Regions from separate parts of the Homo sapiens genome. Here region 1 is linked to region 2. A link means that fine-mapping ties the variant in region 2 to the expression of a gene that starts in the linked region. Tissue or cell type: aorta. Region 2 holds a variant in brackets; the other region holds the start of a gene. All regions are shown on one strand. Distances are between the middles of the regions. Region 1 holds the start of MAPK12 (mitogen-activated protein kinase 12). Region 2 overlaps TUBGCP6 (tubulin gamma complex component 6).

Region 1 (11,857 bases), 30 kb before region 2:
AGCCGGGGGTTCGTCGCCCGGCCCTGACGCCCCCCGCCACCTAGGTCATCGGGCTTCTGGACGTCTTCACGCCGGCCACGTCCATCGAGGACTTCAGCGAAGTGTGAGCGGCGGGGCGGGCGAGGCAGCGGGGAGCGCGTTCGCGGTGGGGCGGTGGGGCCCTGTCCTGACCCCCTGACCCCGCCCCAGGTACTTGGTGACCACCCTGATGGGCGCCGACCTGAACAACATCGTCAAGTGCCAGGCGCTGAGCGACGAGCACGTTCAATTCCTGGTTTACCAGCTGCTGCGCGGGCTGAAGGTGGGGCGCCCTGGGCTTCGCGGGTCCTCTCGCAGGGGGGCGGGCGGGCCGGGCCCGGCGCTCACCACAATCCCCCTCCCGCAGTACATCCACTCGGCCGGGATCATCCACCGGGTAGGTGCGACCGCAGGGTGAGGGTCGGGTCCAGCAGGGCTCCGTCCCAGCCTCCTGTGCTCACGCTCCGCGTGACCTGCAGGACCTGAAGCCCAGCAACGTGGCTGTGAACGAGGACTGTGAGCTCAGGGTGAGGCCCGTGGGCAGGGGTGGGCAGGGCGGCGGCGGAGCCCGTGCGGAGCTTGAGAACACCACGTGGTCGCCCCAGATCCTGGATTTTGGGCTGGCGCGCCAGGCGGACGAGGAGATGACCGGCTATGTGGCCACGCGCTGGTACCGGGCACCTGAGATCATGCTCAACTGGATGCATTACAACCAAACAGGTGCAGGGGGAAGGCCTTGGGGGGACGAAGGCCAAGGGCCTCGTCTGGCCCTCGACTGGCTCTGCATGCCAGGTCTTAGGGGGCAGGCAAGGTCCCCAAGAATGTGGGACCCACATTCAAAAGTAGCCCTTCAGAGGCCGCTAGAGCATGATGGGTGCTGGCCTCCTCTGGCTGTGCAGCTATGGACCTCCCCCTGCCTAGGGGGGTTGGGTATGGCAGAGGAGGGGGTCTGCCCATCTTGGGGTCTGGATGTGACTGTGGGTCTCCTGGAGGAGGGACGTGGGGTGGGCACACTGATGGAGGTCCCCTCGCCCTCGCACAGTGGATATCTGGTCCGTGGGCTGCATCATGGCTGAGCTGCTCCAGGGCAAGGCCCTCTTCCCGGGAAGCGACTGTATCCTTGGCCCAGGTTGGGGAGCAGGGTCAAACAGGGCCCCTCCTGTAGGGTAGGGACCAGCGCTGGCCCCTTCTGGCGGGTCTTGCCTCCTCTGCCCCCCATGCTATGCTACTTTGGGCTGGCCATCCTCACCTATAGGAGAGCGGGCTCTGGGCAGCGCCCCAAAGTTTTGGGTCTGGGGGCCCAGGAGGGGTCTGTGGCTGGCCCGTGGGTGTTTCCTGAGTGACACAGACATTGACCAGCTGAAGCGCATCATGGAAGTGGTGGGCACACCCAGCCCTGAGGTTCTGGCAAAAATCTCCTCAGAACACGTGAGTTGGTGCCCGCCAGCCAGCAGCTCCCTCTCCTGGCTGAGCCCCCAGGCTCTCTGGGGGAGAGGGTGGTGTGGAAATGCGGGGACCATATGGGGAACATGGGATGTGGTGGGATAGAGCCTAGGGCAGGTGCCCAATCCCTGCAGGGGAAACAGGAGAAGGGGGAAGACATTCCTGACACCAGGGACAGTGAGTGCAAAGCCATGACCCCAGCAAGCAGTGCCTGGCCAGGGCAGTGGGGGTGGGCTGGGGGCCCAGCAAGCAGTGCCTGGCCAGGGCAGTGGGGGTGGGCTGGGGGACCCCAGCAAGCAGTGCCTGGCCAGGGCAGTGGGGGTGGGCTGGGTGGAGGGAGTGTACTTGGACCCAGCTCCTGCAGGCATTAGGGGCCAACTGAGGAGCTAGAACCACCAGATCCTATATGGAGGGGGTCACTGGTCTGCCTGTGCCCTTGTCCTGGCCTGTTGGAGTGAATGAGTCTGGGGGCTTGCCAAGAGAAGCCCCAGTTTGGGGCCAGGGAGGCAGAGAGTGAGCAGCCTCCCCAGGTGTTCTTGTGTGCCCCCAGGCCCGGACATATATCCAGTCCCTGCCCCCCATGCCCCAGAAGGACCTGAGCAGCATCTTCCGTGGAGCCAACCCCCTGGGTGAGGACTGCCCTGGGCTAGACTGGGCTCCATATCTGGCCCTGGATGTACAGCTGACCCCCCTCCCCACCACTGGCTTCCCTGCAGCCATAGACCTCCTTGGAAGGATGCTGGTGCTGGACAGTGACCAGAGGGTCAGTGCAGCTGAGGCACTGGCCCACGCCTACTTCAGCCAGTACCACGACCCCGAGGATGAGCCAGAGGCCGAGCCATATGATGAGAGCGTTGAGGCCAAGGAGCGCACGCTGGAGGAGTGGAAGGGTGAGCATGGCAGTGGCTGGGGGTGGGTCCAGGGGCCTGCGGGCTCCATTTCCCCAGAGGCAGGAAATGCCCCAGTTCCTCTCCAGACTGGTCAGGTGTGGAAGGGCGTTCAGGTGTCCAGCACAGGCTGGGAGCGGGGCGGAGGAGTGACACAGGGCAGGTTCTGGCTCCCAGACTGTGCTGAGGCTGCTGTCACAGGGTGGTGGGCCTGGGCTGGGTGGCAGGTGCCAGACAAGCAGGTGAGGGGCCGGGCTGTGGGAGGCACAAGCTCACCCTTTCCCTTCACCTCCTAGAGCTCACTTACCAGGAAGTCCTCAGCTTCAAGCCCCCAGAGCCACCGAAGCCACCTGGCAGCCTGGAGATTGAGCAGTGAGGTGCTGCCCAGCAGCCCCTGAGAGCCTGTGGAGGGGCTTGGGCCTGCACCCTTCCACAGCTGGCCTGGTTTCCTCGAGAGGCACCTCCCACACTCCTATGGTCACAGACTTCTGGCCTAGGACCCCTCGCCTTCAGGAGAATCTACACGCATGTATGCATGCACAAACATGTGTGTACATGTGCTTGCCATGTGTAGGAGTCTGGGCACAAGTGTCCCTGGGCCTACCTTGGTCCTCCTGTCCTCTTCTGGCTACTGCACTCTCCACTGGGACCTGACTGTGGGGTCCTAGATGCCAAAGGGGTTCCCCTGCGGAGTTCCCCTGTCTGTCCCAGGCCGACCCAAGGGAGTGTCAGCCTTGGGCTCTCTTCTGTCCCAGGGCTTTCTGGAGGACGCGCTGGGGCCGGGACCCCGGGAGACTCAAAGGGAGAGGTCTCAGTGGTTAGAGCTGCTCAGCCTGGAGGTAGGGGGCTGTCTTGGTCACTGCTGAGACCCACAGGTCTAAGAGGAGAGGCAGAGCCAGTGTGCCACCAGGCTGGGCAGGGACAACCACCAGGTGTCAAATGAGAAAAGCTGCCTGGAGTCTTGTGTTCACCCGTGGGTGTGTGTGGGCACGTGTGGATGAGCGTGCACTCCCCGTGTTCATATGTCAGGGCACATGTGATGTGGTGCGTGTGAATCTGTGGGCGCCCAAGGCCAGCAGCCATATCTGGCAAGAAGCTGGAGCCGGGGTGGGTGTGCTGTTGCCTTCCCTCTCCTCGGTTCCTGATGCCTTGAGGGGTGTTTCAGACTGGCGGCTCCAGTGGGCCAAAGGGCAACCACATGAGCATGGGCAGGGGCTTTCTCCTTGGATGTGGGACCCACAGCAGCTTCCTGAGGCTGGGGGTGGGTGGGTGGGTGGTTTGGCCTTGAGGACGCTAGGGCAGGCAGCACACCTGGATGTGGACTTGGACTCGGACACTTCTGCCCTGCACCCTGGCCCGCTCTCTACCTCTGCCCACCGTTGTGGCCCTGCAGCCGGAGATCTGAGGTGCTCTGGTCTGTGGGTCAGTCCTCTTTCCTTGTCCCAGGATGGAGCTGATCCAGTAACCTCGGAGACGGGACCCTGCCCAGAGCTGAGTTGGGGGTGTGGCTCTGCCCTGGAAAGGGGGTGACCTCTTGCCTCGAGGGGCCCAGGGAAGCCTGGGTGTCAAGTGCCTGCACCAGGGGTGCACAATAAAGGGGGTTCTCTCTCACTTGGCTTGTATCCAAAGGCTACTCCAGGCCCGGGTGCCCCCACCATCCCTGCTGCTGGGCGTGGGGGGAGTGTCTGGGTCATCCTGCATCACTCACCTCCAGCTGGCCAGATCCCTCAGGCCCCCAGTCAGACCAGCGGCCATCTTCTGGCACCCTCCCTGCTCCCTGGAGGGTCTGAGAGCCCAGGGGGACCAGGGGAAGACATGGCTGATGGGCAGACTTTGAGGGCACAGGGTGTGACAGCCACCCAGATGGTGACCCCAGCTGCCCTGTGGGGATGTACTGGGCAGGCTTGGCTTTGGGCCAAGATCCAGACACCACCCCCGCCTACCCCTCAGTGTTCAGGGAAGCTGGCTGGGGAGAAGTTGGGTGTCTCAAGGAGCAAGGGTCTGCCCATCCCTGGGTGGGGGCTGGGCAGGGTAGGGAAAATAGCTTTCCTTTCCCTCCTGGTGAAGGAAAAAGAGGCCACTTTAACCCAGGGAATGTGCACGCTGGTCCCGTTCCCACTACGCGCTGCAGCTTATGTGTGGGGGAGGGTCCAGGCCATTTGGGGTCAGGCAGTGTCTCTAAGGACCAGGGACAGTCTGTGCCCTTGCTTGGGTCTTGGGTAGGGGTGGAAACCGTCTGGGAGTTGGGGGCCTCCTGGGGCCTGGTCAGTGTAGTGGTCAATCCCGGGGGAAGTCCAGTGTTGGCGGTTGGGGGTGGGAGGAGAATGGTGACACAGCCCCACCTCAGAAGCCTGGTCCGTGCAGGGCCTGCTGGACCCCTGAGCCCCACCACGGGGAGTAAGGGGGACAGCGTGGAAGCTGGGCTTCCTGGAAGAGGTGGATGGAGTGCCACAGGCAGCCCAGGGCACAAAGGGTATGGGCCACAGGCAGCTGTGGTTTGGGTGGCCCTGGGCTGCCCCGCTCACTGGTCACGAGCTGGTGAATGCCGTGGAGCACGGCCCAAGCCCAGGTGTAAAGCTACTACCACCCTTGAGCGGCTGAGCTGCTGATTCATGGCAGGAGGGCGGGGCAGAAGGCCCTAGGGATCCTGTTACCCACCAGCCCAGTGGGCTCCTGGGGTGCCCCAACATCCCTTCTGAGATCCAGGTTCCTGGGCTGGTGAAGGGGTGTCAGGGTGGGGCTTTGCCCTCAGGAGCATCTGGTCCAGGATGGGGCCAGACCTATGGGAGGACAATGCCCACACAGAGGGGTCAGGCGGAGGGCCCCAGCAGGTCCCCATCCCTGCTGGAGAGAGTGCAGCCACTCTCAGCCTGGGTTTTGCAGGACAGGACAGGCAGGGGTGGGATGGGCAGAGACACCAGTACTTGCAATGCTTGGAGCAGGCACCCCACAGATGGGGGGAGCAGGGGGAGGAGCTGGGGGTCCAAAAGGGCCCACGGGGACCTATGGGACTGAGAGGCCCGGGGTCAGTGGCCACAGGAGTGGGGTTGGGGATGCAGCCTGAGGAGTTTGGGGGACAGACCCCTCCGTGTAGAAAGAGGGATACAGGCAGGACAGGTGCAGATGGACCCCTTGTTGGGGGACGGATGGATCAGGCTCAGTGGTAGGGCATCCTTGGGGGTGGCCTGCGAAGTTGACCCCGGGAACACAGGGCTCAGCCCGACTTGCGGCTGCCATAGAAGTCAGCGCTCAGGCTGTCAAGGATGGGCCCTGCGCCCTGGAGCCGTGGGGAGTTAGGACTGGAGCGGGCGGGGGGGGGGGGGGGGGGCTCCTGCTGAGACCCCCCCAGGGCGGGGAAGTTCAGCCAAAGGGGAGAGGCTGGCAGAGGTATCTCCGCGCCGCGTCCGGCCCTTTATGGGGACGAAGCTGCGGGGCGGCGCTCCCCTCCCCCTGCGCTTCCCCCCAGGCTCCGGCCCTCCCCAGGCTCCGGCCCTCCCCCGGCGGCGGCCGCCTCGGGTTTCCGGAGGGGCCGGAGGGCGGGCGAGGGCGTCACGTGCGCGCCGCCCGCGGGCCGGTTGGTCCCCGGGCGGGGGAGGGGCCGTGCGCAGCCTGGGTCGGGGTCGGGCCGGGGTCGGCACCTGGGACATCCCTGAGGGAAGGGCCGGGAGCGGGAGCGCCCCAGCGGCCGGCGGGCGGGCGGGCGAGCGGACGAGCGGCGCGGAGCCGGCCCGAGGCGCGCGCCGAGGGAGCCCCGTCCCCGGTCGTGGGGGCACCGCCCGCAGGCTCTGCGGGGTGGGCAGCTCCCGGGCCTGCCATGAGCTCTCCGCCGCCCGCCCGCAGTGGCTTTTACCGCCAGGAGGTGACCAAGACGGCCTGGGAGGTGCGCGCCGTGTACCGGGACCTGCAGCCCGTGGGCTCGGGCGCCTACGGCGCGGTGTGGTGAGCGCGGGCCGGGCGGGGCGGCCGGCGGGGCGGGCGGGGCCTGCGCGGGGTGCCCGGCCTTCCCGCTAAGCGGTCCGCCCCGCAGCTCGGCCGTGGACGGCCGCACCGGCGCTAAGGTGGCCATCAAGAAGCTGTATCGGCCTTTCCAGTCCGAGCTGTTCGCCAAGCGCGCCTACCGCGAGCTGCGCCTGCTCAAGCACATGCGCCACGAGAACGTGAGTCGCGCGGCCCCGCTCCGGGAAGGCGCCGCGGCCTCGGCTTGGTTCAGCTGGGCTGGGTTCCCCCACCCGGCAACCCCTCCTCCAGGCAGCCTGCTGTGGGGCCGGGCGGGGGTCGGGCCGTGGGTCCCCAGGGGAGAAGGAGAGCAAGGCCTGTCTCTCCTTGGGAGACGACTCCCCCAAGGGCCGTTCCCCATCCTCCGCCAGCCCCGGGAAGGACTCAGCCCCTTGACTCGGCGCCTCAGCCAGGCCCTGGTCAGGGAACACGACTTGGCCAGGCCCAGGGGATCCTCCAGGTCTCACGCCAAGCCTTGCCCCCAGCCAGGAAGCCCGCGGTGAGAGCATGCTCCCGGCGGGAGGATTTTCCTGGAAGGGGCACCTTCCCTCTTCCCCATCCCCTTTCCAGCCCCTCTGTGGAGCCCACTCTGCTGCTGTCCATCTCCCGAGTCTTCCGACCCGGTGGTGGAGGGGGAGGAGGGGGGCGCCAGAACGCAGGGAGTGTGTTGAACCCTCAGGAGCCCCTGGGGGTGAAGGGTTTAGGGAGCTGCTGTTTGAGGAGCACTGGGCGTGGTGGCCGCCTCACAGACACCCTCCTGTGCGTTGTGGGGGCCCATCCTTTCCAGTCCTTCCAGTGAGATGCCACGTACAGCTGCCCTGGGCCTCTCCCATGGCGGTGGCTGGCTGCTAAGAACCCGATCTCTCTGCCAGGGGTGCTCTGGTTTCTGGATACAGTCCCACTTGTCCACTGCCCCCCACGTCACTCCTGCCCTCCCCCTGGTCTGGGCCCAGCCTGAGGGCTGGTGGTCTGGGCACCCGGACCCTACCTACAGGGTGAGATGCTCTGGACCCTCCTGGGTCATCTGAGCCACCGGTGCCTTGGGAGAACGAGTCCCTGCGTCCACCAGCAAAGTGCCCCGTCCACCAGCAAAGTGCCCCGTCCCCCGGTTCCTGGCCACCGCTACTCCCTCAGCCCCTTGGATGGGTCTTTTTCTCTGAGGCTTCCCATGCCCACCCTGACCCCCAGCTCACTACCCTGGGCCCTGTGAAATCCATTTGCAGTGGACACCAGCCCTGCCCGCACCTCGACACCCCGTCACACCCAGCCCTGCCCCCACTTCGCCGGCACCGCACCCCCCCACCACCCGCCCATCACACCAAGGCCTTGCCCCAGGACTGCAGCCTTCCCCACGGCCCCCTGCTCCCACCCACCCACTCACCCACCCGTGCCTTGCCCCATCCAGCCAAGCGCTCTGGGGCTTTTTTTCTTTTTTTTTCTTTTGAGACCGAGTTTCGCTCTTGTTGCCCAGGCTGGAGTGCAATGGCACGATCTCAGCTCACTGCAACCTTCGCGTCCTGGGTTCAGGCGATTCTCCTGCTTCAGCCTCCTCAGTAGCTGGGATTACAGGCGCGCGCCACCACGCCTGGCTAATTTTTTGTATTTTTAGTTGAGATGAGGTTTCACTATGTTGGGCAGACTGGTCTCGAACCCCTGACCTCAAGTGATCTGCTCGCCTCGGCTTCCCAAAGTGCTGGGGTTACAGGCGTGAGCCACCGCGCCGGGCTCCACCGGGGCTTTTCTTTAGCCACCGCCCCGCTGTGCTGGGATCTCCGCTGTGCCTGTGGGCCCACCCCCTGGGCTCCTGGCCTGCAGCTGAGGCTCTTTCCCTGGAACCCCATCTTCCTGGGAGACTGAAGCTCTGTGAGGCCACGTGCCTTGCTCAGCGGGGGAGGAGGCTCTGCCACAGGCCTCAGTCCTGCCAGGCCGCCTCCCTCTCCAGGCCAGCCCCCATACCACAGAGGCCAGGCCAAGTCCTGTGGCCCCTAGCCCACAGGACCCTGCTCTCCGTCTTCTGCTAAAGCACTCTCCCGGGCACCCTCCAGCTCTCATGTCCACAGTCCCCGCTGCCCCCTGGACACCCCCTCTGTTCCCTCTCCTCCTCCCTCCACATTCTTGCCCATGGCTCTGGCCCACGTGGCTCCGGCGGAGCTGTCCTTCCAGCTTGTGTCCATTCTTACCTCACTCTGGCCGGTTCCTACACCACGGCCAGGAGGACGCATTTAGCCTCACGTCCCCATTTAAATCGTCCCCGTCTCTTGGGATCAAAGCCAAACTTCCACCTGGTGTGTGCTGCCCTGCCGGCTCCCTCTGGCCTCTCCTCAGCCCCTCCCTGGCCTGGGCCTCCGCCACCTGGCCTCCCTCCCTGTATTCTTCAAACTATCCAAGTGTGCTCCCTCCTGCCTCGGCCACTCTGTGTGTGCCCTCTGCCAGGTGTCCCGCAGCCCACATGTCTACCTGCCCCTCCACCCTTGGCTGTGCAAAACTCCAGGCCTCCCTGGGACCGTCACCCCAAAATGCTGAGGCGGCAGTTGTCACATGACCTGTCTACTGTCTATCTCCCCAACCAGGGGTGCTGAGGGGACCAGGTCTGGTGGGTCACGGTGCTGTCCGCCTGGGCCTCACCAGCAGAGGCCTGGCCTCTTTCCATAGCGCTGTCCCCACCCTGGGCCTGGATCTGTTTGGTTGGGGTGAAGAGGGGTGAAAGGGTCAGGCGGCAGGAGCCCTTTGGATGGTTCGGAGCCATCCCAGACTCCGGGTTGCCCCTCCCCCAGAAGATCCCGGTTGTCACCGTCCAAAAATAACCTTTCTGTGGGTATGTGTGCCAGGGCTGGGCCACACTGCCAGTGGGTATGTGTGCCAGGGCTGGGCCACACTGCCAGTGGGCAGAGCCAGGCCCTTTGGACAGTGGGGCATGACAATGACAGCTGCAGAGGGGGTTTCCTGCCCAGAGGGTTGTGCCACTCTTGGGGGGTGCCCCAGCCCGTGTCCTCTGCTGCATTCTCAACCCTATGTGGCCCCCCCAGGTGATCGGGCTGCTGGACGTATTCACTCCTGATGAGACCCTGGATGACTTCACGGACTTGTGAGTGCCGACCTGGGCTGGCCGCTGGGCACGAGGGGTGTTGGGCAGCTCTGGGCACTGGCTTCAGGTTCTAGGTTGGCAATGGGGTTCTCTTCCTGCAGCCTGAGTGGGGGATGCACACCGCCCACCCCCTCCCCATACCACTGTCCACCCCACGCCCTCCCCCACATGGTCCTGGGACCCACGGGCACTGGCACAGCTGGGCAGAGCTGGGGCTGCTGCCTCTCTCCACGCCTGGCACCTGGGCCCTCTCCAGCACCGGAGGTGTGAACCTTGGACCTGACCATTTGTTAACAGGAAGGTCCCGTGCTCGGGACCCTGGCACCAAGTGTGTGGCCGGTAACTGGAGCTGCTGACCTTTTCCAGCGGGTGGGGGAGAAGCGGTAGGGAGGACCCACCCTGCCCCTGCCCTGCAGCCGACCACCCTGGGACTCACACCCTGTCGGCCAAGAGTGAAGGGCCAGGCCGAGGAAGGCCTGGAGAGGGTAGCAGGCGCCTCCCGCCTGACTTGCAGAGGTCAAGTCAGTGGCCTCTGGGAAGGTGCTAAATACCATTCTCCTGTGTCTGTCTCCACCGGCCCAGCCGACCCCTCTGACCCAGATGCCTTGCCGCGCCCCCATCGCCCCCAGGCACCTCCCTCATTTCTGGCACAAAGTTGTGAAGTTGAAACCTGACTGCCTCCCTCCCCTGCCTGTGAAGACTCGAGTCCTGCTGCCTCTACCATGGAGCCTCAGCCCCTAGCCTGGCACGCAGGGCGCTTCAGCGGAGGGTTCAAAAACCCCAAGGCAGCCTCCTCCCTGCCTGACAGTCCTCAGGGTGGGAGGGGGGTGTGAGCGCTGCTGGCAGTAACAGTTGCGGGAGGATGGAGCCTGGCACTGCAAGGTGGGGCTGCGAGGACACCGAGGCCAGTGTGGATGTGTGCTGCAGGGGTGACCTTCCTGGGGGTGCCTGTTGGATCCGGGACGGGTCTGAGCCTGGGCCTGCTGGGTGGGTCTCTGGGATGCAGAGGCTGGCTCTGTCCGCTGACAGCGCTCCGGCCCCTCCCACAGTTACCTGGTGATGCCGTTCATGGGCACCGACCTGGGCAAGCTCATGAAACATGAGAAGCTAGGCGAGGACCGGATCCAGTTCCTCGTGTACCAGATGCTGAAGGGGCTGAGGGTACGGGCCCCGGGGGAGGCTGCAGGGAGGCAGGCAGGGCCTCGGGGCTGGGCAGAGGAGGGCCCTGTGGCTCTGAGAGGGTGCGCTGAAGCCTGCCAAATCCTCTGCCCCCCGCAGTATATCCACGCTGCCGGCATCATCCACAGAGTGAGTCCCGGTGGAGAAGCCGCTCATCAGCCCTCCCCCAGTGCAATCCCCCCGCCTCCACGTCCCACCTGTGAGGATGTGATGGGGTCTGGGTGCTGAGCCACGCCCTATGCACAGCCCCTGGTGGGAACCTGCCTGGGTGCCCAGGTACCTTGGTCTGCCCTTGAAGGGCTGCAGAGAGCAAGGGGGCCAGGTCCGGTGGCCCCATCTTTAGGTGCCACCCAGGCTCTTGGCTGTGCCCATGCTTGGGAGGGTGGGGCACAGTGGCCACCTTTCCTCTGCCCCCAGGACCTGAAGCCCGGCAACCTGGCTGTGAACGAAGACTGTGAGCTGAAGGTGTGTGCTGCCTGGCAGGGGGCCCTGAGGTGGGGCAGGGGCCCCCTCTGGATCTGCCCATCTATCCACCTGTCAGGCCTGGGCAGGGGGCCAAGGTCCCAGGCTCTGGGCAGTGGCTGAGGAGCTGGTGGGTGGGTGAGCCCAAGAGGCAGTGGTACACAACATGCCGTACCCAGGGCACCTGCTCCGTCCCGAGGGCTGCTGGGCTTGGTGCACTGGCCAGAGGGAGGAGCTCGGGGCAGTTTGGGGTCCGAGGGCGTGGCCTCAAGTCCTTGAAGGTTGTCAGGAGGCCCCAGCTTGGGAGCTTCAAGTCCAACCCCCCGGGGTCTCCTGGACCGTGGGTGGCCTGTCCGCTCCTTGGGAGTCCCCTAGAACCCACCTCCCCAATTCTTCCCACAGATCCTGGACTTCGGCCTGGCCAGGCAGGCAGACAGTGAGATGACTGGGTACGTGGTGACCCGGTGGTACCGGGCTCCCGAGGTCATCTTGAATTGGATGCGCTACACGCAGACGGGTGAGAAGCTGCCCAGAGATCTGGGCCTCTCAGGCTGCACCATCTGCTTCTCCACTTCTTCACGGACAGCCCTGTGGTGGCTGCTCCCAGGGAGGCTGTTGAGCTGGGGTGGGAGCCGGGCAGGTGGGCTGTGTTGGTGTCTCCTCCCTCCCCGTCTCATCCTGTCCCCCTGCCCACGGAGCTGACCAGGGCTTCTATCTCAGTGGACATCTGGTCTGTGGGCTGCATCATGGCGGAGATGATCACAGGCAAGACGCTGTTCAAGGGCAG
Region 2 (11,434 bases):
TGTGGTTCAAGTTCCTTTGGCAAATCGTTTGGTCTTGTTTCATTTTAAATCCCAGCCACCTGCTAGTTTCCTGCTGTGATGAGCTCTGACCAGCAGGTGGCTAAAGAAACTGCCGCCTAGCCAGAAATTGAGCCTTCTCCACTCTCCAAGACATCAACCCTGCTTTCCCACAGGTCCCAAGACCCCACGGGGGGCCACTCGCCCCTGCTGTTGCCCACCCTGAGAACCACCATTGTCCGACTGCTCACGGCCCTCCCTGCTGCTGAGCTGCAAGGGCTGGGTTAAGGCGGAGGGAGGCCTTTCAGACCCTGGAATGGTCTCTTTCTCTGCATGTGCCACCCATCTGGGGGAAGCATTTTGCTACATTTTGGGTTGTGTTCTCTCTGGGGACCTGTTGGGGCGGGGGGTGTTCACTCCAGAGCCTGCAGGATCCTGCGCTGTGTCTTTGTGTTTCCGCTGTGGGCTTTTTTTCCCTCAGTTCTGAGTCACCAAGAGGGGTGTGCAGCCATGGCAGTGCTGGGGGCCAGTCCTGGAGGAGATGGGGTGGAAGTGGCTGCAGGGGGAAACAGGGTTGTGCCCACAGCCTGCACCCCTGCCGAGGCCATCTGCAGGAAGAAATGCAGGGGGCAGACAGAGGCTCTGAGAGGCTGTGTCTTTCTCATGCTCATCTCATCCTGAGGGAGCCTGGGCAGGCGTCTGGGGTCCAGAGCGGCCCCACCTGCTGACTGGACATCTCAGGGCTGGTCTCCTTCCTCCTGCCCCCTCCAGCCCACCCTCTTCATAGCAGAGGTGGCCAGTAAAAGTGTGTTTCTTGGAGCTGATTGTTTTCGCAGGGAGGACGGGGGTGTGAGTGTGTGTAGTGCCAGTACATGTGGTTTCACAGCCTCAGCACCAGCAGAAGGCAAATTTCCTCAGAGTTGCATGTGCCCAGGGCTGCCTGTACCAGCCCACCTTACCTGTTACTGTCTTAAAAATTTGTGAACTTAGCCAGGTGCAGTGGCTCACGCCTGTAATCCCAGCACTTTGGGAGGCTGAGGTGGGCGGATCACGAGGTCAAGAGATCGAGACCATCCTGGCTAACACGGTGAAACCCCATCTCTGCTAAAAATACAAAAAATTAGCCAGGCATGGTGGCCCGTGCCTGTAGTCCCAGCTACTCGGGAGGCTGAGGCAGGAGAATGGTGTGAACCCAGCAGGCAGAGGTTGCAATGGGCCAAGATCGTGCCACTGCACTCCAGCCTGGGTGACAGAGCGAGACTCCGTCTCAAAAAAAAAAATTGTGAATTTTTTTTTCTGTATCCATCTCTTACGGTTTTTCTGAGGTGGGGCAGTAAAATTTATATAATGTTTTTACCGTCTTAACCAGTTGTACAGCTTTGTAATGCTGTGTGTATTTTCACTGCTGCACAGCAAGTCTGCAGGAAACTCTGAACCCATTAAACAGCTCCCCATTCACTCCACTTTTTTTTTTTTTTTTTCCGAGATGGAGTCTTGCTCTGTTGCTCAAGCTGGAGTGCAGTGGCACGATCTTGGCTCACTGCAACCTCCACCTCCCGGGTTCAAGCCATTCTCCTGCCTTAGCCTCCTGAGCAGCTGGGATTACAGATGCCCGCCACCACGCCCAGCTAATTTTTGTGTTTTTAGTAGAGTCAGGGTTTCACCATGTTGGCCAGGCTGGTCTTGAACTCCTGACCTCGTGATCTGCCTTTCTTGGCCTCCCAAAGTGTTGGGATTATAGGCATGAGCCACCGCACCTGGCCTCCACTTTCTGTCTCTAGGATTTTGGCCACTGTAGGGACCTCATGTAAGTGGAGTTGCACAGTGTTTTGTGATGGCTCATTTTACTCCACTTGGCGTCCTCGAGCGCCGTCCCTGTGGAGACAGTGTTTTGTGATGGCTCATTGCACTCCACACGGCGTCCTTGAGTGCCGTGCCTTCTGGAGCACGTGTCTGAGCTGCCTTCCTTTTTAAGGCTGAATGATGGGCAGGGGTCTGCACGGACGGTCTGTGTTTATCCTCCTCTGTTGGGGGCTCAGGCTCCTCTCCCCCTGGCTGTTGTGGATGTTGTTGCCGTGGACGGGGGTGTGGATGCTGCTGTGGACAGGCATGTGGATGTTGCCGTGGACAGGCATGTGGATAGGCATGTGGATGTTGCCGTGGACAGGGATGTGGATGCTGCCATGGACAGGAGTGTGGATGATGCTGCCGTGGACAGGGATGTGGATGATGCTGCCGTGAATAGGGGTGTAGATGCTGCCATGGACTGGGGTGTGGATGCTGCCATGGACACGGGTGTGGATGATGCTGCAGTGGATAGGGTTGTGGATGATGTTCCCATGGACAGGGGTGTGGATACTGCTGTGGACAGGGGTGTGGCTGATGCTGCCGTGGACAGGGGGTGGATGCTGCCGTGGATAGGGGTGTGGATGATGCTGCGGTGGACCTGGGTGTGGATGCTGCCATGGACGGGAGTGTGGGCGATGCTGCCGTGGACCTGGGTGTGGATGCTGCTGTGGACAGGGGTGTGGATGATGCTGCCATGGGTGTGTGTGGGTGATGCTGCCAGGGACAGGGGTGTGGGTGATGCTGTCGTGGACAGGGGGTGTGGATGATGCTGCTGTGGACCTGGATGTGGATGCTGCTGTGGACGGGGGTGTGGGTGCTGGTACCATGGGTGGGTGTGGGTGATGCTGCCGTGGACAGGGGGTGTGGATGATGCTGCTGTGGACCTGGGTGTAGATGCTGCTGTGGACGGGGGTGTGGGTGATGCTGCCGTGCACAGGGGGTGTGGATGATGCTGCTGTGGATAGGGGTGTGGATGATGCTGCCGTGGACGGGGGTGTGGGCGATGCTGCCGTGGACCTGGGTGTGGATGATGCTGCTGTGGAACTGGGTGTGGATGCTGCTGTGGACAGGGGTGTGGATGCTGCTGCTGTGGACGGGGGTGTGGGCGATGCTGCTGTGGACCTGGATGTGGATGATGCTGCCGTGGACTTGGGTGTGGATGCTGCTGTGGACAGGGGTGTGGATGATGCTGCCGTGGACCTGGGTGTGGATGCTGCTGTGGACAGGGGTGTGGATGCTGCTGTGGACAGGGGTGTGGATGATGCTGCCATGGGTGGGTGTGGGTGATGCTGCCATGGACAGGGGTGTGGGTGATGCTTCCGTGGACAGAGGGTGTGGATGATGCTGCTGTGGACCTGGGTGTAGATGCTGCTGTGGACGGGCGTGTGGATGATGCTGCCGTGGATGGGTGTGGGTGATGCTGCTGTGGATAGGGGTGTGGATGATGATGCTGTGGACAGGGGGTGTGGATGCTGCCATGGATGGGGTATGGATGATGCTGCCATGGACAGGGGGTGTGGATGATGCTGCAGTGGACCTGGATGTGGATGCTGCTGTGGACAGGGGTGTGGATGATGCTGCCATGAACAGGGATGTGGATGCTGCCATGGACCTGGGTGTGGATGCTGCCATGGACAGGGTGTAGATGCTGTTGTGTACATGGGTGTACAAATCTTGTTTTGTTTCTAACAGAAGAATACTTTATGAGTGAATCACCATCTTGAGGGCCACTGGCGTGGCCTGGGGTGCTCTTCCAGGGCTGGGCCAGTCGGATACCCCCGGCCATGCCCAGGACCCCAGGAAGGTGCCCTGGAACACTTTCCACATGAGTTGTCCTGATAGAATCGATCGTGCTGGTATTCACAGCAGCAGCATCCACAAAAGGCTGGGTGGTGAGCTGACATTCATACCTGGCTATGTTTCTTAGAGTTTATTGTTTTGAATCACTTCCATTCTTCTGTTCATGCCCATTCCCGAGAGAAAGCACCCTGGTGCTGAGGTGCAGGTCACCACGTCTGCTCATGGCCTCTCTTCTGCACCCCTCGCAGCCCCCCTGGCCACAGAGAGGAGCCTTACCTGACGGAGGCGGGAAGGGACGCTTTCGACAAGTTCTGCAGGCTCCACCAAGGGGAGCTCCAGCTGCTTGCTGGGGGCGTCCTACAGGCCCCGCAGCCCGTGCTGGTGAAGGAGTGCGAGCTGGTGAAAGACGTGCTGAACGTCTTGATTGGGGTCGTGTCTGCCACGTTTTCGCTCTGCCAGGTGAGAACTGCTCACTCCCCGCCACAGTGGTGTGGGGCTGGCCTGCCCTCCACCACGCAGTGCCCAGCCCTTTATGGGGCAGAACAAGCCCCAGTGCAGGGAGTGGGGAGTGGCAGGGAAGGCCAGCTCCCAGGGCCACCAGTGATGACAGCCAGCATCATCCCATTTCGGTTCTAAAAAGTGTTAATTTATTAATGTCCTTTTAAAAAACTGCAGAGAAATAACATGTTTATTGCTGTCAGCAAAGCGATAGAAAATGTTCCTCCCCGCATTTCCATTTCCGTCCTGAAGTGCCAGGCGCCTTCCGAGCCTTCCCACCGCTCGGGAGGAGCATCTGCCTGCCGAGAGCGTCCCGAGACTGGGGCCTGCGCTGCTCTTCTCACTGGATGCGGTGTCATCCGGGATGGGGCCGGGCCTTACTGGTTCTGGCACCAGCTGCAGTTTAGCCAGCCCTCTTGCTGGGCACTGGAGAAGTGAATGGATATATTCAGAAAAATGAAGTCTTGCTCTGCAGCTTTTTCATTTAAGTGCTCATCCCCTTCCTTTGTCTTAAATGTTCTTTTATGGTGGCCATTCTTAGACTTCAGAATGGACTAGAAGCACAGCCAGTGACTGCCCCAGAAAAGTGCTCACCAGCAAGCTCCAGCTGCTGCCGGCGCTGAGGGCGCCTGTTCTCAACACCGTGCTCACAGCTCATCTTGTCTGTTGTGGGGATAGCCTTATTGTGTGGAACCAACCCTGACTCTCTTTTTTTTTTTTGAGACAGGGTCTCTCTCTTGCCCAGGCTGGAGTGCAGTGGCACCATCACAGCTCACAGTAGCCTCGACCTCCTGGGCTGAATCTCAATCCTCCCACCTTAGCCTCCATGTAGCTGGGACTACAGGCACGTGCCACCACACTCAGCTCATTTTTTTCTTTTCTTTTTCTTTTTCTTTTTCTTTTTTTTTTTTGAGACAGAGTCTCGCTCTGTTGCCCATTCTGGAGTGTAATGGCACGGTCTCGGCTCACTGCAAACTCTGCCTCCCGGGTTCAAGCAATTCTCCTGCCTCAGCCTCCCGAGTAGCTGGGATTACAGGTGCATGTCACTACGGCTGGCTAATTTTTGTATTTTTAGTAGAGACGGGGTTTCACCATGTTGCTCAGGCTGGTCTCTTGACTCCTGACCTGAGGTGATTTGCCCACCTCAGCCTCCCAAAGTGCTAGGATTACAGGCATGAGCCACCACGCCCGGCCCACCCAGCTAATTTTTAAAATGCCTGAAGAGATGGGGTCTTGCCGTGTTGCCCAGGCTGGTGTTGAACTCCTGGGCTCAAGTGATCTGCCTGCCTCAGCCTCCCAAAGTCCTGGGATTGCAAGTGTGAGCCGCCACGCCCGGCCCCTACTTTTCATTTCTGATTTTAGTAACTTGATTTTTTTCTCTTGTTTTCATAGTCATCTTTTCTTTTTTTTTTTTTTTGAGACGGAGTCTCGCTCTGTGGCCCAGGCTGGAGGGCAGTGGCGCGATCTCGGCTCACTCCAAGCTCCGCCTCCCGGGTTCACACCATTCTCCTGCCTCAGCCTCCCTGAGTAGCTGGGACTACAGGCACCCGCCACCGCGCCCGTCTAATTTTTTGTATTTTTAGTAGAGACGGGGTTTCACCATGTTAGCCAGGATGGTCTTGATCTCCTGACATTGTGATCCGCCCGTCTCGGCCTCCCAAAGTGCTGGGATTACAGGCGTGAGCCATCGTGCCTGGCCCTAGTCATCTTTTTTCTTAATTATTCTAGCTAAGACTTGTCAATTTTGTTGATCTTTTCAAAGAGCCAGCTTTTTGTTTGGTTCTCTCTATTGTTTTTCTATTTTGTATTTTTTTTTTCTTTTTGAGACGGATTCTCACTCTGTCGCCCAGGCTGGAGTGCAGTGGTGTGATCTCAGCTCACTGCAGCCTCCGCCTCCTGGGTTCAAGCGATTCTCCTGCCTCAGCCTCCCAAGTAGCTGGGACTACAGGCATGGACTACCACGCCTGGCTAATTTTTGTATTTTTAGTAGAGATGGGGTTTCACCATGTTGACCAGGCTGGTCTCAAACTCCTGACCTCAAGTGATTTCACCCACCTTGGCCTCCCAAAGTGTTGGTGTTACAGGTGTGAGCCACTGTGCTTGGCCTACTCTGTATTTATTTCTGCTCTAATTATTTTTTGTTTCCTTCTGCTAGTTTTGGGTTTAACTGCTTTTTTTTTTTTTTTTTTTTTTTTGAGATAGAGTCTCGCTCTGTTGCCCAGGCTGGAGTGCAATGGCGTGATCTCAGCTCACTGCAACCTCTTCCTCCTGGGTTTAAGCAATTCTCCTGCCTCAGCCTCCTGAGTAGCTGGGATTATAGGCGTGCACTACCTCGCCCAGCTAATTTTTGTTTTTATTAGAGATGGGTTTTCACCATGTTGGTGAGGCTGGTCTCAAACCCCTGACCTCAAGTGATCCGCTTGCTTCGGCCTCCCAAAGTGCTGGGATTACAGATGTGAGCCACTGCGTCCAGCCTGTTTTTCTTTTCTTTCTTTTTTTTTTTTTTTGGAGACAGGATCACCCAGGCTGGAGTGCAATGGCTCAAACATGACTCACTGCAGCCTCAACTTCCTAGGCTCAAATTGATCCTCCTGCCTCAGCCTCCCGAGTAGCTGGGACCAACAGGCATGCACCACCACGGCTGGCTAATTTTTAATTTTTTTTTTTTTTTGAGACGGAGTCTTGCTCTGTCTCCCAGGCTGGAGTGCAAAGGCGTGATCTCAGCTCACTGCAACCTCTGCCTCCCGTATTCAACAATTCTCCTGCCTCAGCCTCCTGCGTAGCTGGGACTACAGGTGCACGCCACCATGCCTGGCTAATTTTTGTATTTTTAGTAGAGACGGGGCTTTGCCATGTTGGCCAGGCTTGTCATGAACTCCTGACCTGAAGTGATCCACCTGCCTTGGCCTCCTGAAGTGCTGGGATTACAGGCGTGAGCCACCATGCCTGGCCTAACTTTTAAAATTTTTTTAGAGATGGGGGTCTTGCTATGTTGCCCAGGCTGGTCTCAGACTTCTGGGCTCAAGTGATCCTCCTGCCTCAGCCTCCCAAAGTTCTGGGATTATAGGTGTGAGCCACTGTGCTTGGCCTAACAGCTCTTTTTAAAATATCTCTTTAGGGTATACACGGTGCTGTTGTGGTTTGGTATCTTGTTCCTTTGTATTGCGGGATATTTTTTTTCCTTTCTAACGTGGGTATTTGCGGCTGTAACCTCCCTTCTGGCTTCTGCTACACCCCATTCGTTTTGGTTGTCATGAGCCCTCTATTGGGGGTCTCCACTCTCTGGTTATAAACATACTGTGGAGAATGTCCTGTGGCGAGTCTTTGTGCATCTTCCATCATTTCTCTAATTCATCCCGAAGAGTCAAATGAGCGGGTCTCACGGCCGTCATGTTTTATAGCTTCTGCCCCAGGAGGCTGTCTGTGTACTTGTGTCCTGTGGAAGGTGTTCTGTTTTTTTCTACCCTTTTCTACACTTGGCATTTTAAACATGTATTTTTCAGTGTGGTCAGTGAGGATTTGTGCCTCGGTTTGGTCCCTCGGTGTGGGAGTTCTGGGTATGCCTTCTGGGCATTTGCTTTTGGGTCCTGGAGGCACTCTAGGTGGCGTGGGGTTGGGTGCAAGGGTGGAGGGAGACGGCACCTTACTGGGGGTCTGGGTGCCTGGCCTCTGTGACCAGTGTCCTCTGCCCCTGTGCAGCCGGCCCAGGCCTTTGTGGTGAAGCGGGGCGTCCACGTGTCAGGAGCGTCTCCCGAGAGCATCAGCAGCCTGCTCTCGGAAGTGGCCGAGTATGGGACCTGCTACACGCGCCTGAGTCATTTCTCTCTGCAGCCCGTCCTGGACTCTTTGTACAGCAAGGGCCTCGTGTTCCAGGTATGGCCTTTGCCTCATGGTTGTCACACACCTTTGTGAGAACGGTGCACACGACCTGGAAGAGAGAATCTCAGAGGTCCTTCTGCAGGACCAGAGAGTCTAAACCTTTTCTTTCCTTGCTAACATCTGAAACCCGATAGTGGCTCTTGAGGGATGGGTCAGTGAGGATGTTTTACCTCACTAGAAACTTGGGGCAGATGTGTGTGGGCCCTGGGCTGTGTGGGCCCTGGGGTGTGTAGGAGGCAGGTGCAGCCAGCATAAGGGGTG[C/T]GCAGGGCAGGAAAGGCGTGAGTGGGGCTCTTGCTGCCTGCTCCCCAGTGGGCCCGGCACATTGTGGATGACTGACAGCGCAGGGCCCTCCTGTTGGGTGAATTTACATTGCTGGGAGTTCTGAGCCAAGTCTGGCTCCGGAAGCTGCTGTTTGGTGAGTCTTGAAGCTGGCTCATGTGCTGGGAAGAGGCCCATGGGACAGGGGCTGCACCTTGAGTGGGAGAGAATAGGCAGGTGGATGATGGGGCATTTGGGTTTGGGGGATTGAGAGGAGGGTGTTGGGGAAGGTGGGCAGAGAGCCCTGGAGGAGCCAGGCAGCGCAGCCTCCTTTGACTGTTGCTGCTGCAGCAGGGGCTGTCGGGTGGGGTGATGTGGTGAGGTGTAGGTTTTAGATGGGCTGTGGAGGTGGGCATGGTGGGAGCTGCACGGGGCGGGGAGAGCTTCTAGGCAGAGGCTCAGCCCCGGGGGACTTGAGAGCTAGAGATGGTGGAGAAGGGGTCAGAGCAGGGGACGCTGAGAAGGGCTGGACTGTGGTTCTTGTTCATCTGGCAGGCATAGCCAGGCGGCTCCTGGGGTGGGTGGACTGAGATTGGTCCAGGGTGCCCCTGTCTTAGTGTGACCTGCAGGGCCTGCTGCTGTGGCGTTGCCCAGGATGCTGGTGCCACTGAGACAGCTGTGGTCGGAGCAGCTGCAGCCCTCACAGCACTAGTGTCTGTGCACAGAGCACGGCCGCCATTTCCCCCCCAGCCCCTTTGCCATGCCCCTGGGGCAGCTGGGCTCAGATGAGAGGAAGGGTTGGTGGTGGGCGCCCCTGGGGCAGCTGGGCTCAGATGAGAGGAAGGGTTGGTGGTGGGCGCCCCTGGGGCAGCTGGGCTCAGATGAGAGGAAGGGTTGGTGGTGGGCCACAGCTTCTGGCTTCTTGTGGATGGGCCGCATTTCCACCTGGCCCGGTGGCGGGGTGTGGCTCACAGAGGCCCATTGCTTGGAAATGGAGCCCAGAGCTGAGGCAAGAAACAAAGCGCTGTTCCCAGCACTGGTGCCCCTCAGGCCCTGGGCACGGCTGCGTCCATGTGCCTGGCCGCCCTCCTCCCAGCCTCTTTGCCCACAGGCCTTCACCAGTGGCCTGAGGAGGTACCTGCAGTATTACCGGGCCTGCGTCCTTTCCACTCCGCCCACCCTGAGCCTCCTCACCATTGGTTTTCTCTTCAAGAAACTTGGCCGGCAGCTCAGGTGAGCCTCAGCATGGCGGCTGAGCAGGGGACTTTGCGGGAGCGGTGTGGGGCTTGCTGGGTGGTGGAGGGTTTGCCCTGCTCCCTGGCAAGGAGGGCCTGTGAGAACAGCCCTCAGCAGGCGACCGGATGGCCCTTGGCCGGCCGAGTTCACCAGGTGCCCGGTGCTGAGCGGGTGTGTCTGCCGTGGGCCCACCACAGCTGGCCCCATCCAGGCCCTCCAGGTCCGGTGGCTCCTGCCTAATTGGCACACAGGGTCCCTGGAGATGTGGCGTCCGGTACACACAAGCTGGTTAGTGAGCAACCAGGCTCGGGGGCTATTGGCAGGTGCCATCAGAGAAGGAAGAGTGAGGAGCTGGGCATTGGGAGCAGTGGGAGAGGCGACCTTCCAGGCTGAGGAGCAGAGTGTGGCAGCGCTGAGGAGACCCAAGGGCTGAGACACTGTGGGGCAGGGGAGCTGGGCTGTGAAGGGTGCGAGTTGTGGCAGATGCTTGGTACCACTGTGTGGATGGGAGGGGCTCTCAGGTGCAGCCCCCAGAAGTGGGAGGATCAGGGTGATTCGTGTGTTGGCCAGATCCTGGGAGGGAGGGCCTGCTGGGTGTGGGTACTTCAGTGGGGTGTGTGTGGACAGCGCAGGGGCACAGGGCTGCACACGAGTCCTGCAGGGAGCCCGTTTCTGGGTGGTTGGGGTGCCTGTGGTTTTTAAAGCCTGCATCTAAAGTTAGTTGCCCCAGGGAGCATAAAGATACGTGGAGACTTTGCTCACGATCTGATCCAGGCCTGGGAACCCTGAGCCCGGTCACCTGGTCTCATCCTGCCTCTGGGTCTAGGTACCTGGCCGAGCTCTGTGGCGTTGGCGCTGTGCTCCCGGGCACCTGTGGAGGAGGCCCCAGGGCCGCGTTTCCCACCGTGAGTTGTGCGTCCCTGCCGAGTGTGTCAGCCTGGTGGGCTCCAGGAAACGGGGGTGGCTGAGCGTGTCCCTGGAGGGCTGCTGCCGGCAGGGCTGCGCCTCACTCCCAGCGCTGGGTGCGCTGAGCTGCCCCCCACCCCCTTTGCGGTCTGCAGGGCGTGAAGCTGCTGTCCTACCTCTACCAGGAGGCTCTGCACAACTGCAGCAACGAGCACTACCCTGTACTGCTGTCCCTGCTGAAGACCAGCTGCGAGCCCTACACCCGGTGGGCAGTGGGCTGGGCAGGCGCGGCGGGCGCGCACTCCCACCAGGCAGACACTTGAGAGCGGTCCCTTGTCAGACACCTGCTGAATGTGGGGGTCACACAGGAAGGGGAGGGCAGGATAGGTGGACTGGGCAGGAGCCCCCAACCCCCCACCCTGCCCCCACTCCACACCCCCCACCCTGCCCCCACTCCATCCCGCCCCTCATGGATGGCCACACCCCACTCCACCTCTCACAGCTACGCCCCCACTTGCCCCTCACTGACAGCCACGCCCCTGTCCCACCCCTCACTGACAGCCACGCCCCACCCACCTCTCCGTTGACCACATCTACCCCTGCTTTTCCCCCACTGCAGGTTCATCCACGACTGGGTGTACAGCGGGGTGTTCAGAGACGCTTATGGCGAGTTCATGATTCAGGTGAACCACGAGTACCTCAGCTTCCGAGGTAGGTGGCAGCTGATTGCGGGGCAGGGGTCCGTGCCTGTGGGCCTGGGTTCAGGGCCATGGCCATGCCGGCCACCGTGGTGTTCACCCTACCTTAGATAAGTTGTACTGGACACATGGCTACGTGCTCATCTCCAAAGAGGTGGAGGACTGTGTTCCCGTGTTTCTGAAGCACATTGCCCACGACATATACGTCTGCGGAAAGACCATTAACCTGCTGAAGCTCTGCTGCCCCCGGGTGAGGAGGGGCTCATGTGTGGGGAAGAGAGGGGCCGGTCTTCCCTGGGGCTGAGTATGAGGCT

The links. PIP is the estimated chance that this variant, and not a neighbour inherited with it, causes the effect.
Region 1: it holds the start of MAPK12, and the variant in region 2 is the best candidate, but not a certain one, in a credible set for the expression of MAPK12 in aorta (GTEx, PIP 0.55).

What each region holds. Positions count from the first base shown.
Region 1 is chr22:50,255,815-50,267,671 of GRCh38, reverse strand. MAPK12 (mitogen-activated protein kinase 12) reads left to right here and starts at 5,989. Exons shown (of 12, transcript NM_002969.6): 1 at 5,989-6,287; 2 at 6,376-6,505; 3 at 9,371-9,429; 4 at 10,479-10,590; 5 at 10,708-10,737; 6 at 11,026-11,073; 7 at 11,473-11,587; 8 at 11,791-11,857. The coding sequence starts at 6,163. MAPK11 (mitogen-activated protein kinase 11) reads left to right here. Exons shown (of 12, transcript NM_002751.7): 3 at 45-103; 4 at 190-301; 5 at 386-415; 6 at 498-545; 7 at 624-738; 8 at 1,061-1,132; 9 at 1,367-1,446; 10 at 2,012-2,090; 11 at 2,178-2,351; 12 at 2,645-3,959. The coding sequence ends at 2,724. RefSeq lists enhancers at 4,872-5,603, 7,173-7,673, 8,398-8,970 and silencers at 5,651-5,700, 5,711-6,020, 6,051-6,420, 6,571-6,750.
Region 2 is chr22:50,225,986-50,237,419 of GRCh38, reverse strand. TUBGCP6 (tubulin gamma complex component 6) reads left to right here. Exons shown (of 25, transcript NM_020461.4): 3 at 3,894-4,104; 4 at 7,843-8,016; 5 at 9,392-9,513; 6 at 10,343-10,421; 7 at 10,578-10,687; 8 at 11,042-11,133; 9 at 11,231-11,370. Among named protein-coding and RNA genes, the nearest start is that of TUBGCP6, 13 kb to the left of the region's middle. The variant C/T (reference allele first, on the strand shown) is at 8,284.